Regions from separate parts of the Homo sapiens genome. Here region 2 is linked to region 1. A link means that fine-mapping ties the variant in region 1 to the expression of a gene that starts in the linked region. Tissue or cell type: whole blood. Region 1 holds a variant in brackets; the other region holds the start of a gene. All regions are shown on one strand. Distances are between the middles of the regions.

Region 1 (8,108 bases):
CAAGGGCACCCTCTCCCTCCTTCATCGCTGAATGCTCCTGGTCAGCCAGAAGGAGGGGTGTGAAGGCCTCAGCAGGTTGATGCCTGCACCGCCTCCTTCACAGGCTCACAGAGAAAGCCCCTGCTCTTCAGACTGGGGAAGCATCTTCGTTCCTCTTTATTCATCTTCCCAGTACCCACAGAGACTAGCAGAGTGTACTGTACAAAGAGGGTAACAGATATTTGTAGAATATTCCTTGAAGAAATGAATGGAGAAACATCGACAGGGTATGGTTCTAATACGCTCACATTGACCTCTTCCACCAGGTTTGAAGATATTATTTCCCTTTCCTCTCAGTCCCAGTGGTCCTGAGGCCCAGGTTGGAGCCACTGTTCTCTCACCCACCTGAAAGCTGACTCATCAACTTCCCTGGATCCCAGACATGGATTTTCCCTGAAACCAACTCTTCCTGTCTTGGGAAGCCGGCTCAGGTCAGTGCCTGACCGTTTCCTGGGAGAGGCTCTGGTAAGGCCAGCCTCGGCCTTTCCTTCATCTACTTCTGCTCCGAGAAAGTTCCTCATTCTTTTTTCTCTTTAGACATTACGTTATTTTTCCTGCTAAGTGTTACGGTAACACATAGTAATCATAGAAAATTTGCAAAATAAAAGAAAGTATAAAGAAACAAACCAACGAAACCCCCCAATGATTTCTAAAGGGCCTGTGTTTCTAGTCCTTGCTCCATTCGGGTCCCCTCCTTTCTTCTGCAAACTTCCTGCTTGTAATCCTCTTTGTGGGAGGACTCTCACATTAGCATTTCAGGTCTCTTTATCTTTGGAGCCAAATATTAGCATAAGAATTAGCATATTATAACCCAATTACTTTTCAGTTACAAACAATCTCAACCAGATTGGGGTTATTCTTAATTTGCATAGTTTTGACAAGGGGGTGAGAGATGCAATGGGAAACTGTGGTGTTCTCAAGTAAACATAACAAAGGTTTGCTTTGGAGATGAATGTGGCTTGGAAACAAATAAAAAGATAAGACATAATGAGAGGATGTGGAGGCTTCTGCGATGGGTGAGTGCTGTTCTGCCCAGAGAACCATGGAATAAATGATTTCTCACCATCCCTTCCAGCCTCTTATAATGTAACATGGTTTCAGGAAAATAATAGGGCTTATCGAGAGAGTTCTCTCATAGCAGAACAGGCCAGCTGCCAGTTCCCTGTAGGTCTTCATGAAGTTTACCCAGGATCCCTGTCAAGGGAGACAGTGAAGAACTTCAGGATACTTCAGGAGACTCTCCATCCCCATCTTCCCAGGAAGCTGGGTGTCTCCCAGGACAATGCATCTAAATACCTACATAGATGGGCATCAGTGAGCTAACACATGCTTGGTCAGTGTAAGAGAATAACCAAATTGCCACTATTCCAGAATAGGCGTGCTATCTAATTACCATAAGATCCCAAGAATCTATTGCAGATCTACCATATGGACAGAGCTGTACTAGGTAGGTACAGCCTAGTTAGTGAATGCTTCTTAGGATCAGTATGAAAATGAGACCAAGAGAACTCTTATTGAGGGATCTGAATCAGATATAAACAGCAGGATCACTAGATTTTCTCGGAGAGGGCAAAGTGGACTTTCTAGTGTTATGCAAATGTTGGATATCTACAAGCTTTCACCCCCAGACTCCACAAAGCATGAGTGAGCACTGTAGATTTCACTAAACACTATGTTAGGGAGATGGAGACGAAGTTACAGAGCACAACACATGGTATTTCACTGTAAAATTTCTTATTAGACATCTCTTTCCTAGTCTTTGTTCTCAGCATTAAACATTTTCTCTTTATTTAACAACCTTTCATTGGTTTCAACCTCTGGTCCTGCACTGTACTGAGAGCTTCTGAGGTTGTGCGGAGCCAGGCACATGCCTGGGTGGGTGCAACCCCAATGACCAAGGAGCTGGCCAAGCTGGTTGAGGTGAGGAGATACCGACCAGGGAGAAAGAAGGCAGGACATGGGCAAAGGCAGAGATACCGTACTGGCTGTGGCTGTGCAGTGTCATGCCAGAAGTGACAAAAGATGAGACGTTGCCTGCAACTGTGAGGGAGCTTTGCCTTCATCTGTAGAGACTCAGAAGTTCATCAAAGGACTTATTTACTGGTCTGGTTTCCATCTTTACTTTTGTCTGCCTTGGCCTCCATGTGTTCTGGAAACGTATCAGTGATAACTTCTAGCCAAATACCTGTCACATATTTGAAAGCAATAATGTTTCGTTACTTGAGTTTTCCTCTTTAGCTTCAGTAGTTCTGACTCTTTAGCCTTTCCTCATGGGGCCTCTTTTCCATCATGAGTCCTGCCCTTTTGTTTGTGTCATTCTTCTCTGGATTGTCTCAAGTCTTTCCATGTACTTTGAAAAGTGCAGTAATCCAAATGGCATGTGGCTCCCTATGAGCGGGAAGCATAAGAAAATGACTTCTAGCTTCCCATACAATTTTCTCTTTAATGTGTTGTAGAATTATAATTTGTGCCCCAGAATAACACAATACGGTTGGCATGTTTTCCAGCTTGGAGTGGGTTATAATTTCTAACCATTCCCCCTATTTTTACCAGCTGGTCTCTAGACAGCTTATATGAATCCACATCCATTGATCTTAGTGTGCCAGTTAGCATTACTGTCCAGGGTCCATTTTGTTTTAATCATCTTAGTTTATATTTTACTGTACATCTGCCATAAATCCTGGATTTCTTCCCTTCTACCCACAGAAAAATCTGGTTCTAGAAAATAAGGTGCTGGGTGTCTTCTGAACATAGCTTAAACAATGCATTGTCTGCAAGCCTTAGAAGTAGCTAAAAGGCAAGCTCTGCGGATTATTTACAGGTGACTTATCAGTGTCTCAAATCTAAATTCTGATTATTATGCAATTCCCTCTTTTTAGGCTGTCATCATTTTTCATTACTTAAGGACTATCTCGGCTCTTGGGCCTTCACTAAATTGTTACTGTCAGGATTTGGGGAGTTATTTTGAAACCTATCAGCAGTGGGTGACCTCCTGGCATCCTGATTCAGAGTTTTCCATAATCCCCACTACTACAATTGTTAAATTGTTACCTGTGTAAAGCCTCCTCCTTTTTATAATTGAGTAAAATTAATTTCCTTTCTTCCTGGTGTAAATTTAGTTGATCTCATTTACCCTTTGTTAGGAAATGGTAATGTGTTGATTAAATTAAGGGCTTCACATGGATTTAGAATAGTTTTATGTGGGGAGGAGTTGCCGGGAGATTTTCTCAGAGGCTGATAAATAGCTAAAGAGAAATAGAGAGTTAACAGTGACATGAAGAGAGAAATACAAAGCTTTTTTGAATGTGCAAGCAGCTGTTAGCTTAAGGACATTGGTTACATATGAATTTTAGCTTTG[G/A]ATTGAGAGTTTTCTAGTGTAAAGTTCAAATGCTGAAGACCTCTGGGAATGGTGCCACCATTTTTCTTCTGTTTAATCCTAACTAGAAAAGGTAGGGGAGGAAATAGTGCATAGGGTTTTTTTTCTTCCCATTAAAACAAAAATTGGTGTAAAAAGGAGTGAAGAGTTATGGAGAAGGCTCAAATCATTATATGCAGGAAGATTTCATTCATTAGAGAGAGTACATTTAATAGAACAGTAACTTTTCTTTTGTTTTCGTGTGTGTGTGTGTGTGTGTGTGTGTGTGTGTGTGTGTGTGTGTCAGAGTTTCGCTCTTGTAGCCCATGCTGGAGGGCAGTGGTGCGATTTCAGCTCACTGCAACCTCCACCTCCTGGGTTCAAGTGATTCTCCTGCCTCAGCTTTCTGAGTAGCTGAGATTACAGGCATGCACCACCACACCTGGCAAGTTTTTGTATTTTTAGTAGAGATGGGGTTTCACTACATTGGGAAGGCTGGTCTCAAACTCCTGACCTCAGGTGATCCGCCTACCTCGGCCTCCCAAAGTGCTGGCATTACAGGCGTGAGCCACCACGCCTAGCCAGAACAGTAACTTTTCAATGAGCTTTCCCAACTGTCTCTCTGGTGATAACCCTGTCGGGGATCCAGGGCAAGTCCTGCCACCCCCATCGTATAGTGGGGGATGAGCTTGGGGTTCCAGAGTGAGGTAGAGGCTGAGCTAGAGGTGAGCCTGTGCACATCTTACTGTCAGCACCACCTTCACCCAGCGCCATCACCAAAGATCACATCAGTAGGATTCAGGATGGAGACCAAAAGAGCCAAGAGAAGGCAGTGAAGACATTGCATAATGCTTATTAGTGAAGGTAACCACTCTTTCAAGGCTATCTGTGTCCTAGTCAAGGCACTGGTGACACACCGAATAACACAGTGGATGCAGCCTGACGTATCCCACTGTGAGTGACACTATGAATGAAGGCTACGCTGAGAAATCTGAAAGGTGCAGTAAAGGAAAAGGGAGAAACTGGCAAGACAAAGGGGAATTCAATCAAGACGTGTAAGTGGCTCTTCAAATTTCATACACCTGACTGACCTAATGGTTAAAAACTCAACGGCTGTGCTTATTCATTTATTCACTGATATTTTAAAACAAAAGTATCTTGAGCACCAGCTGCATGGCAGGTACTGTAGCTGGAGGCAAGAGATCCAGGGAGCATGGACATGGGCCCTGGCTGGAGCATCTTGGAAGGACAGTGGAGGCAACGACCATGTGGGTTGGGACTAAGGTCTTGCCTGGTGACATCTGAGCTCTCCTCAGCCTCCAAGTCCTCTCTCAAAGCCACAGCTTCATCCTTCTGCCCTTACACCTCGCTGATTTGCCTGATACCCTCTCTAAACTCCCCTTGCACTATGCCCTGTGTCACATGCTCCTCTGTGATTTAGTTTTTAATGACTTTCCCTATTCTAGAGCATCCTTCAACACATCCAAAGGGCAGAAACAATGCCTTTTCCCGCACACGAGGCCTCCTCCATGGTGGGGAGTTTGTGCATATTTTCATTTTTTGCCAACTCATCGTCACAGATCAATCTCCCTCTTATTCATGTGTCCCTTACAATTTTAGTAGATCCTCACATCCCTAAGCTTGGATCCTTTCCTTTCAGAGGCTTTGCATACCGCATTTCCCTAACAACTCTATAACCACGGGGTGCTTCTAGGAGTTTTGGTCTTCCCTTTTTGAGGCTTGGCCAAGATCATAAACCAGACCTAAGGGTGCCCACCTCTGTCAGGTGAAGAGGACACAGCAAAGCCACCTAAAATTGTCTCCTCCACTGGTTTTTCACATTATCTGAACCTCCACTATCATATTTACTCTTGTCACAGTCACTGTGTGAGAAAAATAATTTTTTTAAGAGTGGAAATGAGAAGATGAAAAGGGAAAAGGAAAGCATCACAATGCCACCCTTTGAGCCAAGAACTTTATTTAATTTTTTCCATGTCATATGGAATTGTACGTAGTTTCAGGTTTTCTTTTAAAAGCCTTTTGGCTCTTGAGTCAGGCTAGAATCCTAGATATGAATCCCACCTCTGCTCATTACTAGCTGGGTGATTTGGGGCAAGGGGCTGAACCTCTCTGTGCCTCAGTTTTCTCATCTGTAAAATGTGATTAACAGCAGCACCTACCTCATAAGGTTGTTGTAGGATTAAATGAGTTAATACAGTAAAGTGCCTGGCACATAGTGAGCACTCAGAAAAATGCTGGCTGTTATGAGGAAAGCAGGATATCTGGGCAGGATTGACAAAGGAGTGTGGCCGCACAACCACACAGATTTCTGTCAATTGTCTACGTAATAACTGTTGCTTCCAAGCAGCTCTCTGGCCAAGCCTTCCCCTGGGGACCCGGGCACTAAGGACACGAGGAAGCCCAGTGGAAAGGCCAGGCCAAGGGAGCGCTGAGGTCTGGGCCTGGCTGAGCATCTCCATGAGGGGCCCTCCGACAGCAGGTGGGAGGGCGAGATCAGGGCAAAGGGGGCCTGTGAGGAAGAGGGGATCATTACAGAGAGAACCAAGAGGAGTACAGGGTCAGCTCAGCCCACTTAGCACCTTTGCACCTGCCGGCCCTGATGACCGGCCATGATCGTTCCATTTTGGGGCTTTTGAAGAGGTGGGGAGGTCCTGGGCCCAGCCAGGACGAGACTGGGGAGTGTTCTGCGGCTGAGTTTGGCTGTGTAATTAAAGCCCTGGTGTCTAGTGCCGAGAAGAAAAGAGAAAACAGCATTGGAACCCAACTGGCAGATGTGCTTGTTGTGCTGAGAGAAATTCACAGAACCTTGTGGTGCCATCTGGCTGAGAGCTGACTGTTTGCATGATGCAGTTCTCACTTAAGGAGGTGAAGCATCAAACTCCCTGGCCCCACCCACCTGCCTCTGCATCTGGGCAGCTGAAGGTAAGGGCACTCAGCAGCCCCGATGTAATGCCACATCCCAGTGTGCTCAGGAGGAAGCCACCAATCTTTGTTCTCTGCCTAAGGAAAGAAAAACAGCTAAAACAAAGCATTCTAGGACTGACCTTTGGTACAATGTTGGAAATATGAAAGAAATATAAATGTAACATTTTAAATTTCTGAAACGAGGAATAATTATCAATTTCATATACACAAAGTAAGCCCAGTAGGCAGGCCTACTAGAGCAGTGGTCTCCAAATTTTTTGGCATTAGGGACGGGTTTCATGGAAGACAATTTTTCCACAGATGGGGTCCGGGGGATGATTTTGGAATGAAACTGTTTTGCCTCATCCTCAGGCATTAGATTCTCATAAGAAGCACCCAACCTAGAGCCCTCACTTGCGCAATTCACAATAGAGTTCACGCTTCTATGAGACTCTTATGCTACCGGCTGATCCGACAGGAGGCAGAGCTCACGTGGTAACGCTCACTTGCCCACCGCTCACCCCCGGTTGTGTGGCCCGGTTCCTAACAGGCCACAGACTGGGACTGGGACCTGCCCGAGGCTGTGGGGTTGGGGATCCCTGTGCTAGAGGCTCTCAGAAGCATTCTCCATCTCCAGATAATATTCTGTCCCTCCACATGTGAAGGAGACACAGAGCTTTCCTGATGGAGCCTGGCAGGTCTGTCTGTCTTTATACACACCCATTGTATAGAGAAGTATTCTGGATCCAGGGTATATCATGATCATTGTCAATTTTCAGAACATCTCCTGGGCTGGTGAACTGTGGTTAGATAATAAAGAGTTGCTGGTGAAATGCCTCAGGGTGTGGTTAGAAAAAAGAAAGAAAAACAAGTGGTAATATAGGGTGCGGGGGGAGGTATGGGGAGGCTGGGTAACTGTGATTTTTAACTCAAGAAGGAAAAAGGGAGAGGAGAAAAAATGAAGACTCTATAGCTCATCTAGAGTGAGCCAAATTGGATCCCAAACACTAACACTTAATGCACTAAAAACTGTATAATTCAAACATCTCTCAACACAGAAGATGGGTACCACGTGTGTAACAAAACATAATTGAGCTGAGGTGAATCCCTGTCCTTAAAAGAGGTTTATAAGCTAATAGTGGTGATGAAGGTGAGGAAGACTCTTAGTTCCACTCAGAAAGTGAGAGGATCTGAATACTCCAGAAAAGGAAAAAGATAAGAGGAGAGATGAAATGAGATTGGCAAATTGTTGATGATTGTTGAAACTGAGCAATGAGTATTGAAAGGCAGGGATCATTACCTGACTCTTCTATCCAGGAGGCCGTTAGTGGACCAGGAAGTCAGGACAAGATCTGAGGTGAAGAGCTGGTGAGGAGTGAGACAGCTGCCAAGGTCCACCTTGTTCCCCTAAGGAGCTGAGCTCTTTCTCTTCCTTCCTTTTAGACAGGTTCATTAAAGCTGGCCCACTCCACATGACCTAGAAGGACTGGGTCAACCCTGAAAGGTTTGCTCCATAGCCCAGAATGACAACCTCTGACATCACAAATGCAGGATTGGAGAAGGCATAGTTGGCATGCAAGCCGTATTGATTTTTTTACAAATCAGAGCTTCATGCTTGCTGCTGAGAACATTTCACCGGGCCACGAAGCTGCTGCAGGAAGTTTTCAAGTCCTCTCCTCTACACCGTGACCTTAACTTAGAGAGCACTCTCAGCCCCTCCTCCCATCCCCCCGCACCTGCCCAGGTGGGCCCCACTGCTCTCCACACCCACACCCACCTGGTCGTTGCT
Region 2 (8,108 bases), 90 kb after region 1:
TGGCAAAGGCTGTCTCTGCTTCTTATGGCATTTTCCTACTCTCTGATCCTTTGTAAATGACAGAGCATGGCATCATGAGATAATCAACTAAAGAACCACATGATAAAAGTTTACTGGTTTCACAGAAAGTAATTCTTCCATTTAGTTATTTTAACTTCATGAGGTTCCTTGAGAAGATCCTTCAGGAATGATCTTAAGATGGGAGCCATTTTAGACACTTACATGGTAGATGGGGGAGATATATTTGTTAACAAATGTATGAGATATAGTTTACATATTATAAAATCCACTCATTTCTCAATAGCTCTATGGTAGAAACAATTGACGTGTCTATCCATGGATAAATGAATACATAAAATGTGGTATATACATACAATGGAAAATTAATCAGCCATACAAGGGAAGGAAATCCTGACATGTTATAATATGGATAAATCTTGAAGACATTTTTCTAAGTGAAATAAGCTAGCCACAAAAAGACAAATACCATATGATTCTATTCATATGAAGTACTCAGAGTAGTAAAAAAACATAGAAACAGAAAGTAGAATGGTGTTTGGGAGAGACAGAAAGGGGAGTTGGTGCTTAATGAGTTCAGGGAGCAAGATGAAAAGAGTTCTGTGAATGGATGGTGGTGGTGGTTGCACAGTGTGAACGTACTTAATGCCACTGAACTGAAAATGTAAAAAAGACTAAGATGTTAAATTTTATGTTATGTGTATTTTGCTACATTTTAACAAATAAAAAATTACTCATTTAAAGTGTACAATCCAGTGGTTTCCTGTGTATTTACAGAGTTCTACAACCATCGCCAAAATCTAATTTTAGGTTGTCATCATTCCACCTTCCCTGTTCCCCCAAAATCCCTCCTACCCATAAGTAGTCACTTAGGGAAGATATTTTTAACAGGCCATCGGTGTCATGCCCTATTTTTCCAGGACTTGACACTCATAGACTCTTAGAAGGGACCTTAGAGATTTAGTTCAAGCTTCTCAGATGAAGAAATTGAAACTCAGAGAGGCAAAAGGTCACATAACTAATTCGTGGCAGAGCCAGGTCTTTTGACTTCCTATGAAGTTATTTTTCCCATTACAAAAATGCTGTGTCATTCACTTTCTTCCAACTGATGCTGACAATAGATTCCTGGTGTCAAGAAGATGCTACCTTTTCCTGCTTGGGACAGCTGAACTCCTTTCTACAGCCTCCCACCTCACCCGCCTGAGCTGGGAAGCAAAGAGAAAAGAAAGAGTGGAAAAATCTGCAACTGTGTCCAATAATGTTACCTCATGCCTTAACAATGTTAGGGATGAGTTATAATGAGTTTTATTGAGAATAATGTCTCAGCCCCTCTTAGAAGAGTAATTGGAAACACAGCGACTTTTGAAAGACATTGCCTTTTGTAAAGGTGGCAGTGGTAACCTGCAGCAAACAGCAACTCTTGCCTTTCTACTTACAGTGGCACTTAGGCCCGGCAGTGCCATGGCCAGGCAGTGCCATGGCCAGGGAGGTCATTGGATAAAAGTTGGAGTCAAGGGTATGGTGGAGGGACTAACTCTGTGAGTTAGAGCTTTCAAAATGTGCTCCAATATTCCTTCTGAGCTCATTGGTCAATTGAAGTATTTTCACCTGCCCTTATTTCCTGGGGGGCTGGTGTAGGGGTAGGGGGACTCTGTGGTTGCTAAACATTGCAAATGAGCAACCAAGTAACAAAGGCCATGGAAAATCACGTAACTATGGACTTGGAAATATCTAGACAAAGTCCTGAAGCCTAATCACAGTGAGATTTGGGCCTCTCTTCTCTTCTGGCCTTTGGTTTTTCGGAGAATTTGATCTATCTTCCTCAGGGTGATATAGGCCCTTAGGAGTGTTTGGAATTTCTCCACCCAGGCTACTCAAGAGGCAGGTACTCTAAATGTCCTGTGGGTTTCCAACTGATGAGAAACCCAACTGGAGAGATTGCTGTGGGGAATCACGTAGGCTTCTAGACAATGAGCTCCCTGAGGACAGTGACTGGATTCTGCCTCTTTTCAACAGCCCTATAGACAAGGATGTAATAACCCCCATTGCCAACCCAAGACCTTGGCATTTCTGCCACATGATGCTGCTGTTCGCTACAGTGACTCATTTTTAAACTCCTAGTGCCTAGCAGAGTGCCTGGCACATTTGTTTGCTGAATGAGAGAATGAGTAGTGACATTTCATATCAAATGATGCATTATTATTTACAAAGTGATTTATTTCCCATGCATGAACTCATCCTCATAACTACCCCTACTTTACCCCGGAAGGTAGGCAAGACCATTTTACAGATGAGGTCACACAGCTGTAGGTTGGAGAGGTGGCTTTCAGACTCTAAATTCATTGGCATTTATATATAGGCATCATATTGAGACTGCCCTTTCTAAAGTACTCTGTCAAAGGACTAAGAGATATGAATAGGGATTCAGATGTTGACCTCAGATTTAGGAACAAAATGCAGAAATCACAAATGTCCATCTGAATGGTGTCTCAACAATGGCATTATTTTCTCCTATTTGCTAATCACTGCAAGGCATATAGGTTTTCAATTACATTATGAGTTACATAGAATAGAATTTAGGGTCCAGATGGGTAAACTGGTGAATCCCCATGAAGTTTGTAGTAGCTATTTCCTGATACAGATTTGATATAATAACACTGTTGTATGTAATACAGTTTTGGTAATTTCAGTTAAGTAGATTGTAGCTTTATTGCCCTGGGTCTTCAAGGAAACACATGTTCAAATATTCTCACTGCTTAATGAGATCCTTGTTCCTGTTGAACTTATGTGACCTTATTGGAAATCAATGATTGCTTTTGTTCTTCAAAATGTAATGTTGAGGAGACCTAGATGAAATCACTCTACAAAATGCATTGAGATTGCAGGATGTGGAGAATGTGCTGTAATTAAAATGAATGATTCTGCTTGGAGGTACAGCATATTTTAGCTCTGTGTGCATATCGTGCATAAGGGAATTTCTCTATGCAGAATTATTTTCTCCCAACAATTCTCATGATCACAGCACTCCTGGTAGCAGGTATCACTTAACTCCTGGGCAGCAGCTTGTCCAAAGCAAGGGAAAGGGAGCTTTCCTTTCCTCGCAACTGTTGCTATGGGGGGCGTGGCTTCGGAGCTGGGTGAGGAGGCGTTCGGCGGCTCCCTCCCCCCCCCACCCTCGTAGACTACACTTCCCGTGATGCTCGAGGGAATGGTCTCCGTGGTGACGCACTTGGTGTCCGCGGAGGGAGGACGAGGACGGGGGCGGCGGCTGCTGCGAGGGGGGGCCCGTGCTCTCCCCGTTTCCCTTAGTCGCACTCAGGCAGCCGCCGCCGCCGCCGCTGCCGCCATGTTGGTTTGAGAGGCGATGACAGGAGGCGGCCGCGGCGTGTGGGACTGAAAAGTGAAGGAGGAGGAGGAGAAACAAAGCTCTGAGAGGAAACCATTCCCGGGCTGAGGAGAAGGAGGACCCGGCCTCTTCCGGGGACCAGCCGAAGTCGGCGTCGCCCGGAGCTCGCGAGGCCGGGGAGGGGAGGGGAAGGGAAGGCGGAGACCGGGGAGGCGGCGGCGGGGAAGGCGGAGGCAGAAGAGGAGTGGCGAGGAGCCGGAGACGATGCGCCCCGACCCCAGCTGCTGTCCGGAGGCGCCCGCGGCCTGAGCCCAGAGGGGCTGTGGAGTGTCCCGGCCGGCCCCGAGCACCCCCGCGCTGTCGGTCCCCCGCTCCGGTCTTTCGCTTTGGCTTCCAACTAGTTAAATGCCCTTGAGCGCGGGTTTCCGCGGCCCGGCTCTTCGCCCCCGCGGCGCGAGTTGAGCCGTTTCCCCGCGCTGTCCGCGCGGGCGCTCCGACAGCGGCTCTGCAGGGTCCGCGGCCAGCGTCCGGCCACCGCTCGGCCGCCACTCAAGGCTCACGCGTCGATGTGTAGCTACATAGTTATCTGTGTACATCCACGCTGGGGCATTTTTCTCCTGCTTAATGAGGACTTGACTCGGGAGCAAGTGTGAATCATTGCCGGGGCTGGGAAAGGAGGAAGGCGCATTTAACCCCCTCCCACCCCTCTCCATGTCCGTGTGTCACTCGGCTCGGTCCACCTGGCGCGGCCGGTCCTGGGGCTGCTGCTGCTGTTGACGACGACGACGACGACGGGGGCTGCCTCTGCTGTCCCGGGAGTTTCCTCCTGCTCCGGCCACACAGCTCCTGGGGATTGTTCCTCTTCGAACCAGAACCTCGGCCTGACCGGCACTTTGGCTCCAAAATAACTTTATTTTTGGGGGAGAAAGCACATCACGAACCAGTCAAAATCGTGGTTTATTTCTGTAACGTGAAGACTTCTGCTCTTTTTTCTTTGTTTGTTTTTTTCGTAAACATCTGGGTGTATATCAAACGGCAAGATGTCCAGTAATGTCCCGGCGGATATGGTAAGTGACGGATAAGTTATGACACTGATTTAATTGTGGTTTCCAATCTTATTTAATCGGAAAGACGGCAGGCGTGGGGCGAAGATTTGCTGGGGACTGTCGAAAAGCCACTGTGCTGAGCGATTTGGAGAAGTTGGAGCTTCTGGTTTCCCCCTTTTAGGAAGTACTGCTTTTAATATGGGTTCTCTCATTTGGTCGTGTTTTCTAAAGCATTGAAGATAGTGGAGAAGTAGGGAAATGTATCATGGTAGCTTGAGGGGACAAAACATCTCCCTCTTCGCTAGAAGCCTCCGAACACTAGTATTTTAACGTTTCTGAAAACGTCAGGGACAGTGGGCAGAGCTGAGGACGGGTGTCCCTACGAGAGAATAGGTAGGGAAACGGGAATCTTGCTTTATGACACAGACGAGATCGTCATTGCAGTAGGGACGAACTTGATATTTTTCAAGAACAGGGATGCACATCTCTTCAAGAAAAAGTATGTTAGAATTTGCTGTGAGGTTTTTGAAATGTCTGAATACGGATGGCAACAGAAATATAAAGATATTTTGGGATTTTCAGAAACGTAGGCTGACCCTGTATTGGTACTTACAATGAATATTCCAGGGCTTTTTAATGCCAGATATTTATTAATAGTAGATTCCATATTAGACATAAAGCTAAGGAAACATAGTATTGAGCCTCGATCACTGAGTGTTGAGAACTTGAAACAAAAAGTACTGTTGTTTATTGACGCCTTTCTTTGTTTTGTTTATAAAGGGTAAGGTTGTGAGTCGGTTGACTAACAGTAACCGTGTAACCTTACAGTGCTGGGGCTGGGCTTGTGTGAGTGTGAAGTTACATTTTGCAGTCCTAAGGACAAACATAATGCATTTAATTACCAGGAAGAGGAATAATCCTGTTTATGAAAGAATTGAAGTTAACGTAGTTGTGCTCACATATGTTAACATTTGAGTGTTTGTGTATTCAGTGGAAACAAATTGAACTTTGCTGATGATTAAATTTTATTTTATTTTTTAATTTTAATTTAATTTTAATTTAATTTTTATTTTTTGAGACGGAGTTTTGCTCTTGTTGCCCAGGCTGGAGTGCAATGGCGCGATCTCGGCTCACTGCAACCTCTGCCTCCTGGGTTCAAGCGATTCTCCTGCCTCAGCCTCCCAAGTAACTGGGATTACAGGTGCCCACCACCACACCTGGCTAATTTTTTTTTTTTTTTTTTTTTTTTTTTGTGGAGACAGGGTTTCACCATGTTGGCCAGGCTGGTCTCAAACTCCTGACCTCAGATGATCCACCCATCTTGGCCTCCCAAAGTGCTGGGATTACAGGCGTGAGCCACTGCGCCCAGCCTGCTGATGATTAAATTTTAAAACGCCAGATGTTTCTAGAGGAGCAAACCTCATATACAGATTTTATAACAAAAATTAAATGATTCTAAATGGCTTATTTTGACCTTGGTTTAAAGGAATTTTGCTCTTGTTTAATTTCCCATTGAATGCAAAGGAAACACAGTGTTCTGTCTCTGGGGGTGGCCACATAACAGCTTTACAGTCTCCTTCCTGAGTCCTAAAACTCGTGCGTTGTCCTTTTAGTTTTCGCTTCTCTTCTGGTGTGCACACATGAAATAGCCTCCTGCCTGGTTAAGTACGGCTGGACAAGCTTTCCTCCATACTGCTCTTGAAGTTGCCGGGAGCGGTCTCTAGACAGAGCTGGGAAATGCTATTTCCCTTGTTTGATGAGTGATCTGTGGGTTCATCGCCTCGAGCAAAGATTTGCTCTCTCGAAAGCCTCCATTTTATATCATCAAGCACAGTGCAAAATAGGTTAACCTTAAGTACCGTCTATTCTCTCACAGACGTTGGAATGAAATAGATGTGTTATTAAAACAGTGCCGCTACTTCCTTTAGGTCCAGTGAAGAAAAGCTGGAATGTGCGTGGCATCAGTCACAGATTGAGATGATTTGGGAAATACTGTTTCCAAGTCAGAGAGAGGGTTTGGAGGCTGATGTTAGGATCAGAGGACTGGGAAGTAGGAGCAGGGTTTTATTAATATCTGCAATTATAAAATATAACAGTTTATCTGTTTGAGACTGGATGTTAAGGCCTTGATTCTGTGGTGCTTTGAGATCCTTTGATTAAAGGTGATATGCAAGGGCAAAGCAATATTATGTAATAAATATATAATGCCCTGATGATGCTATTTCAGAGTGGGTACTAACGTACAGCACAGGTTTGATTGTTCTGAGTATTTTTTTATGTCTTGTTTTCTACTGTTCAACTGGTTAGAGGTTAAGATTTTCTCTTTGTGAAAGTCTTTTAAACGTTCGTTTATTACTTAACTTTGCATTTTTGCTTAAGAAGTCTATCATTTGCTATGTGCCTAGAATTCTCAACTTTTTGAAATATAACATGACAAATACTGGTTAGAAGTTGTCGATTAAATGCTTCATGATTATTAAACTCTTAATACCATGAATTGACAATTGATTTTAGTTTACATTCATGACAACAATTTACCGCTCCAAACCTTGAAGAGCTCCTCTCACCACTCCCACAGCAAAGCTAATGACATATATCCCTTGCAGCATAACTCTAAATTGATCAGGATATGTACTGTTAAATACATTTTTGCTAGATGCAGTAAAATGTTAAGCTTTCTCCTAGTTGACAGTATGTGCTGTCAACTGTGCTGAAACAAATGTTACACTTTTTTACTTTTTGGTGGTGGTGTCATTTCTATTGAAGTCAATCTTTTATATGTTAATGGTGCTTGTCAGTTGTATAGGAAAATCCTGTTGGGGAGATGGGATGGAGTGGTGAAGTTAACCCCTATCATGTTTCCAATAGAGATAATTTATTCTCGAGCTACAATAATTGCTAAATCAATTGATGTTTTTGGTAAAGTCTTTTTATGGCCGTGATTATGACTCACTTTAAAATAGATTTTTTAGCTTTGGTTTTTGTTTTGTAGGTAGAACTCCCATTTAAAATTTATTTTTGAACATCCAGTAAATTTTTGTGTTTAGCATAAGGAGTCTCATTTTTAATGATCCAAATGTCAATTTTTTGGATGAGGGAGTGGCACCCGTAGTGAATGGATTTGCTGTACCCTTTAAAACATAATTTGTAGTTGGTACTTTTACTACATTCTGCAATATATATGTCCTATAAATATTACAAGTGTATTTACTTGAAATGTTGGTTTTTCTTTGCTAAGAGTGATTGAGTTTGAACTAGATTTAATAACATCTTAGTGTAGTAACTTATTTGTGAAAAAATCTGAAAATATCTCAACAGAATATCATTATAATATATTGTATTTAAATGATGTATTTATTTATTTATGTTGCAGCCAAGATCATAGTTCATGATGCGGCTATATTCATTGTTTATAGTTGCAGTGTGACTTATGTTAACCACTGTAGGTTTTTTGCAAGAAAATATTTACTGCCTGTGTTAGTAATAAGGCCTAAGACTGGGCAAGCAATGGTAATTTTGTTTTCTGGATTGGTAAAGTTATCAAGAAATACATTCTTGTTTTTATAAGAGTATTGTATACAACATTTAGGCTACTATTTAGAGCTTTGGACTAAAATTATACTTTATCTATTACATTGAAAACTTTAAGAGAGAAATTGACAGTGTGAGAATAATGGCAAAGCAATTTTGTGATTCAA

What was found. PIP is the estimated chance that this variant, and not a neighbour inherited with it, causes the effect.
Region 2: it holds the start of UBL3, and the variant in region 1 is fine-mapped to the expression of UBL3 in whole blood (INTERVAL, PIP 0.94).

What each region holds. Positions count from the first base shown.
Region 1 is chr13:29,936,213-29,944,320 of GRCh38, reverse strand. LINC00544 (long intergenic non-protein coding RNA 544) reads right to left here and starts at 7,790. Exons shown (of 5, transcript NR_033889.1): 1 at 7,620-7,790; 2 at 7,040-7,119; 3 at 6,312-6,415. The variant G/A (reference allele first, on the strand shown) is at 3,398.
Region 2 is chr13:29,845,835-29,853,942 of GRCh38, reverse strand. It overlaps UBL3 (ubiquitin like 3), which reads left to right and starts at 3,326. Exons shown (of 5, transcript NM_007106.4): 1 at 3,326-4,431. The coding sequence starts at 4,405. RefSeq lists silencers at 3,171-3,280, 3,551-3,850 and enhancers at 3,411-3,480, 4,151-4,220, 4,691-4,760.